Linked DNA regions of Homo sapiens. The protein of the gene in region 1 interacts with the protein of each later gene in a biochemical or structural test. Each region holds a gene or a part of one and is shown in the gene's direction. Other genes may lie near its edges.

Region 1 (3,592 bases):
TAGTTAGTAAATCTTTAATAACAATATTTTCTCTTGTATTTATATGTAACTTTTTACATATTCTTACGTTATATATGTTGGGAATTATAAAAACATACACATTGTCCTGATCAGTATTATGTTACTTGCAATGGAGGTTAAAAAAAAACTGTAACAGTCAGGCATGGTGGCTCACGCCTGTAATCCCAGCACTCTGGGAGGCCGAGGCAGGCGGATCACGAGGTCAGGAGTTCGAGACCAGCCTGACCAATATGGTGAAACCCCGTCCCTACTAAAAATACAAAAGTTAGCCAGGCGTGGTGGCATGTGCCTGTAATCCCAGCTACCCAGGAGGCTGAGGCAGGAGAATTGCTTGAACCCGGGAGGTGGAGGTTGCAGTGAGCCAAAATCACGCCATTGCACTCCAGCTTGGGTGACAGAGTGAAACTCTGTCTCAAAAAAAAAAAAAAAAAACACCAGTAACATACCCACTGTTATTCAGTTACATTTGGATTTTAAGTTTGTTTGATTCTAGGTTTTTTCTTTTACAGTTCTTTGGTAATTATTTGTATTAAAGCAAAGTTACATTTTTGTAGATCTCATGTGCCACTGTGTTAAAACTTTGCTTAGTAAATTGTGAATTTTAAATCTGTGATAACTTTCACTGGAAAAATTTGAAACTTACTACAAATATATATTTTTTTTAATATCAGGCACAGTCTGATGAAAAGTCGCTCATTGCCAAGTTGCACCAACATAATGTCTCTCTTCAACTGAGTGAGGCTACTGCTCTTGGTAAGTTGGAGTCAATTACATCTAAACTGCAGAAGATGGAGGCCTACAACTTGCGCTTAGAGCAGAAACTTGATGAAAAAGAACAGGCTCTCTATTATGCTCGTTTGGAGGGAAGAAACAGAGCAAAACATCTGCGCCAAACAATTCAGTCTCTACGACGACAGTTTAGTGGAGCTTTACCCTTGGCACAACAGGAAAAGTTCTCCAAAACAATGATTCAACTACAAAATGACAAACTTAAGATAATGCAAGAAATGAAAAATTCTCAACAAGAACATAGAAATATGGAGAACAAAACATTGGAGATGGAATTAAAATTAAAGGGCCTGGAAGAGTTAATAAGCACTTTAAAGGATACCAAAGGAGCCCAAAAGGTAAACATTTAAACTTGATTTTTTTTTTTAAGAGACAGTATCTTGATCTGTTTCCCAGGCTGGAGTTCAGTGGTGCAAACATAGCTGGAACTCCTGGGCTCAAGGGACTCTCTAGCCTCAGCCTCCTGAGTAGTTGTAGCTGGCAGTACAGGTGCACACCACCATACCTACCTAATTTTTTAAAATTTTTAAATTTTTTTGTAGAGACAAGGTCTCACTTTGTCACCCAGGCTGGCCTTGAACTCCTGGCTTCAAGTAATCCTCCTGCTTTGGTCTCTCAAAAGTGCTGAGATTACAGGCATGAGCCACTGTGCCCAGCCAATTTTAAATTCATTATCTTCAAAAGAGTTACATGATAATTTCTTAATATATGCCTATATGAAAAATGCTTAAGATACAAATTCCAATTATGATTCATTAATTTAGATTTTATAACTTAGCAGTGTTGGCTATTTGAATGTCTATTATACGTAAAAATAAAATTAGGCTTTTCTAACCAAAGATTTTAGTGGGAATGTTCAGATTGTATAATAGCAAAGAATTTTAATTACTATAGGAAAATTTATATTAATTAAACACTAATTATTATATTTAAACATTGTAGTAGTTATCAGTTGATTTCTACTGTTCATAATTATCTTTGATCTACAAGTAGTGGGCCCACATTTACTTTTAATATGGTTTAATCTTCATTTAGAAAGAATTAAATGAAAAATAATTATCTTGCAACTACATCCTGTTCTCTAGGCTAGAAACATTTAGGATTTCTGTTTTTGAAAGTAATACCAAAGTTCCAATGACCTGCTTATAGTCAGTGTTCAATAAACGTATAACAAATGAAAGTGAATATTAGTGATGTCCATTCCAACATAATTTGAAGATTTTTATTGTAAAATCCCACATATTTGTAGAAAAGTCTATGGAAATCCTAAATAAGATTTTGTCATGTAGTTTGACAAAAGATAACATTGTGTCTTATTTTATTTTAGAATGGCCATTACTTTCAATTAAAATCATTATCATCAATGGAGGAATGTTATTTGTTAATATAGCATTTATATTTGTGTATATAAATTGTAAATCTTAGGTAATCAACTGGCATATGAAAATAGAAGAACTTCGTCTTCAAGAACTTAAACTAAATCGGGAATTAGTCAAGGATAAAGAAGAAATAAAATATTTGAATAACATAATTTCTGAATATGAACGTACAATCAGCAGTCTTGAAGAAGAAATTGTGCAACAGAACAAGGTTTTATTTTATATTTATTTCATTTTTTTCCCTAAGTTTTTTTTTTTTTTTTTTTTTTTTGAGATGGAGTCTCACTCTGTCGCCCAGACTGGAGTGCAGTGGCGTGATCTCGGCTCACTGCAAGCTCTGCCTCCCGGGTTCATGCCATTCTCCTGCCTCAGCCTCCCAAGTAGCTGGGACTACAGGCACCCGCCACCGTGCCTGGCTAATTTTTTGTATTTTTAGTAGAGACGGGGTTTCACCATATTAGCCAGGATGGTCTTGATCTCCTGACCTCATGATCCGCCCGCCTCGGCCTCCCAAAGTGCTGGGATTACAGGCGTGAGCCCCTAAGATTTTAAACAAGAATATTGCACAAATGACTATGTTATCCTTCTAATTAAGTGCACCTTCCATTACTAATTGATTATATAATAATTTGTTTTTTATTTTCTAAACTATTCTAAAAATTCATATTTATTTAGCTTTTATAACAGTAGTCTTAATCTTAAAAACGGCAATACATAAGCAACCTCATTTGGTAAGTTAATTTTTATTTTGATATTGGTTATTTGACTTTTCACAGTTCCACGTTTCTACTGGCTCTCACTGATAGAGTAAGAAGTCAGCTTCTTATAGAATAAAGTATATACTTCAGAGACAGATGAAATTCGTCAAACATATGACTGTCTCAGAGATTGTTCCCCCTGCTTAAATTGTTCTTACCCTAGATACCTTTGGTATTTACACTGTCAGTGCCTGCAGGTCTTAGCTCAAATGTCTTACCTTATCAGTGTATCCTTCACCAGCCACCTAATATACAACAGTAAATCCTACTATCCAGATTCCTAAATAGAGATTAATTAACTTAATTTTTCTCCAAAGTGCTTGTAACCTTCTGACGTATTACATACTTACTGGTTTATTATTGACTGTCTTTCCTTCGCCAGAATGCAAGTTCCGTGGTGACACGGACTTGGTTTTGTTTACTGCCATGTTTGTATTTCCTAGAATGATGCTTGGCACATAATATATGTCATCAAATATCTTTCGTATAGCTGAACGGATGGATGGATGGATGGATGGATGGATGGATAGACTGAAATCCTTACTTCACATCTGCCTTTGTGATCTTACACAAGTTACTTCACCTCTCTGAGTTTGTATTTTTTTCCATAAAAGGAAAATAATTACAGTTTCTTCAATGTGTTGT
Region 2 (3,592 bases), on another chromosome or scaffold:
TTCCTTTTGCCTTAGAAATAATAAACATCACACCTTTAGGAAGCTCAGAGTTGAAGAAAATCAAACAAGATATATATTGTTATGATCTCATTCAATATTGCCTCTTGGTCCTCAGTCAAGATTATTCTCGAATCCAGGGTGGTTGGACTACAATTTCCCAGCTTACACAGATATTAAGGTAAAATAAAGCAGTAAGTCAGCTGTTCTTGAGGGATGTAGTAGTTGATTCTGATTTTCAACATTTGCTTTTTATTTATCTGCCTAACAAGCATTGGCAACCTCCTGTTGTAGGTTTTGGTTGTACTTTTCCTTCATATTATATGTTATTATTCATAATTTTACTTCAGATTATTTGACTGTCTAAAATTTTCCTCCACAAGCTTAATGAAGATGGTGATCATTTTTTTTCTCACCACTGAATTCCAAGTGCCTAATATACTTTTTATTGATTAAGGAATTTTTAAAGAAGTGAAGAAATTAAGGCACTGGCTCTGTACCTGAGAAACTTAAAATAGAGATTGGGTGACAGTCATGTAAGTATATGATACAAAGCAGAATGAAATCAGTGCTAAAATGAAAGTATGCAAGCAAGTACTATAGGAGAACTGATAAAGAAACATTTTATTTCACTATATCAATGTAGCTATCAACTGTGTATTTCATTAAGCAACCCAAATACTGTCAATAAAATTTAGAAGTAGAATTTACTGATCTACTGCCATGCTAGAAATTAATAGAAGAGAAATAAACATTTTTTAAAGGAGGTAGTAAAATAAACCAGATGTTCTTAGTGCCTAAGCTACTTCCTGATTAATAAGTGAAAGTGTGTATTTACTAACTGGATCCTAGCCTTCTTTTTTTGTTTTTCCTAAATAAGCCATTTGAATTTAATAAGCTATTCCCACTGAAAGGGTTTGTCTTGGATGCTAGATTTCTAAGCTGCTTAATCCTACTGTGTTACTTGGTAAAGGCCAAATTTAAAGCACACAGTTACAAAGAACAGTTGAAAAATATATGTGATATTCTTTTTCATACTTTAATTTTCAAGATTGATTTTCTTAAGTAAATAAAGCCTTATGTTTTTGTTTTGATTCGATATGCTAGTTTATGATGATATTGATTAAGCCAGGCTCTCGGGTGGAATTCAAGACTTAAGAAATTCCCATGTTTCTGAATGCACAAATAAACATAATTTCATTTGTTAATCTTCTCAATCAAAAAAGATACTCTTAAGTAATTAACTTTAGGAACCAAAGAGAAAAGAAAAGCTGATACATGTGAGCATTAGCCCATTAACTTTAGGAACCCAGGTGCAAATAAACAACAACAACAACAAAAAGTGATACATGTAAATATTATCCACTTAGGTTTTTTTTTAACTTTTATTTTAGGTTCAGGGGTACATGTGGAGGTTTGTTTTATAGGTAAATTGCATACTCAATGTTTGTTCTCACTTATAAGTGAGAATATGCAGTGTTTGGCTTTCTGTTCTTGTGTTAGTTCACTTAGGTTAATGGCCTTCAGCTCCATCCATGTTGCTGCAAAGGACATGATCTTGTTCTTTTTTATGGCTGCATAGTATTCCATGGTGTATATGTACCACCCCAAAGAAATATACCATTTTCTTTATCCAGTCTGCCATTGATTACTTAGATTTTTAACATGCTCAATACATAGTTGTTATTGCTTATTAGTGTCCATACATTTTGTTGAAAAGACTCAAACAGCAGTTTTTGTTCATTAGAGTACACACATAGAGACCATTCTTGGGTTTGAGGCTCTTTTGAATGTTAGTTTACAGAAAAACCTTTTATTATTGGGACTTCTGACTTATGTACAGGAAATGACTTTTATGTACAATTTTAAGAGGACCTTTTTCTCTAAGTGACTTTCTCTCCTCTAATGTATATTGTAAAGTGTTCCTACTAGAGTTAGGTTTTGCCGTTTGTCCTTCTGATATAAGGAATATGCAAATGAGTATTTTGCAAAAAGTAGATCTATTGGAAGGTAAAATTGGTATGAAATTAGTGTTTGGTTTCCTTATGTATCCCTTGCAAACAAATCCTACTTGGGCATTTTTCAGCTATTAGGTGTCTAAAATGTATTAGTTAACACAAATGCTTTTCATAAATTAAACTCTCAAGGTATCCTATAGCTTTGAGAATGATTATAGCCAATTCACTGAAAACTTAGCTTCTCTTTATTGTGAGCCAAGTGTCTTTTATTTGCTGAATGAGCTGATATGTAGGTTTTTAGGATACATAAATCCCAGACCTAAGTACAAGCATGGTCCATACCACTGTTTACTTTTCTAGAAAGTTGTTAGACTAATTTTTCAACAAAAATTCTTTATTGTCTTGGTAACAAAAGAAGCATACTAAAAATTCTCAATAAGGCACAGTGTCTCTAGAAGCTTGAGCATTCAACATAAACTTCTAATTAACACGAACTTGTGCTCTTATTTCAGCCATTGCTGTGTGGGCTTGGAGCCAGGAGAAGATGCAGAGGAATTTTACAATGAATTACTTCCATCAGCTGCAGAAAATTTTCTAGTTTTGGGGAGACAATTACAAACATGTTTTATCAATGCAGCTAAGGTATGTGTTTATTTAGTCTTTTGTAGCTAAATCAGTTTAATTCTTAAGAAGCTGTTCTGTTATTTTTTAAATGTGCAATATTTGGCTGAAAGTACAATTAAAGTAGTGAATTTAAACATTTTCAAAGTTACAACCTTCCAAAAATCATCTCTATGTTTGAAAAATTTTTAATGCTGACTGAAGCTTGCCATTTGATTTTTTGAAGGATCTGCCTTGCTACTTTACTTGTTGGGCAGCACCCATAGACAATTATTTCCATAACATCTTTCTAAACATACTTTTTACTTAAATTAACAGTAGAGGAAAGTATGTTCTCTAGGGCTAGGGCTTTTCTAAGTAGCTCCAGTAGTGAAGAATAAAGGTGAACTTCCTATTTGATCTCTCATATCTTCTCCAGTCAAAATATTCAACCCAAACATAGGGGTCTTTTCAAGTATTTCTTGGTTGCATTATGCTAGATGCTATACATGTGCTCTTTTTTTGACCCAGGGATTTAGAAGTGTGTTGCTTAATTTCCAAATATTTGAAGATCTACTAGATACTTTATTGTTATCAATTTCTAATTTAATTATGTTTTGGTCAGATAACATTCTCTATATCATTTCAATCCTTTGGAATTTTTTCAGACTTGTTTTATGGCCCTCCGCATATGTTTTATCTTTGTGAATGTTCATTAAAAGAAACTTTTGTGGGCTGGGCGCAGTGGCTCACACCTGTAATCCCAGCAGTTTGGGAGGCCGAGGCGGGCGGATCACCTGAGGTTGGGAGTTTGAGACCAGCCTGACCAACATGGAGAAACCCTGTCTCTACTAAAAATGCAAAATTAGCCGGGCATGGTGGCACATGCCTATAATCCCAGCTACTTGGGAGGCTGAGGCAGGAGGATCACTTGAACCCAGGAGGCAGAGGTTGCAGTGAGCCAAGATAGTGCCATTGCTCTCCAGCCTGGGCAACAAGAGCAAAACTCCATCTGAAAAAAAAAAAAAAAAGAAAAG

What was found. Proteins that work in one complex are often made in the same cells at the same time.
Region 2: the proteins of CEP290 (region 1) and IQCB1 interact in far-western blotting, tested with the Homo sapiens proteins (one study listed by IntAct).

What each region holds. Positions count from the first base shown.
Region 1 is NC_000012.12:88,086,588-88,090,179, reverse strand, and holds part of CEP290 (centrosomal protein of 290 kDa), read left to right. Parts: intron 1-692; coding exon 693-1,148; intron 1,149-2,235; coding exon 2,236-2,400; intron 2,401-3,592. UniProt on the Homo sapiens protein: Involved in early and late steps in cilia formation. Its association with CCP110 is required for inhibition of primary cilia formation by CCP110.
Region 2 is NC_000003.12:121,825,056-121,828,647, reverse strand, and holds part of IQCB1 (IQ calmodulin-binding motif-containing protein 1), read left to right. Parts: intron 1-15; coding exon 16-178; intron 179-2,467; coding exon 2,468-2,597; intron 2,598-3,592. UniProt on the Homo sapiens protein: Involved in ciliogenesis. The function in an early step in cilia formation depends on its association with CEP290/NPHP6.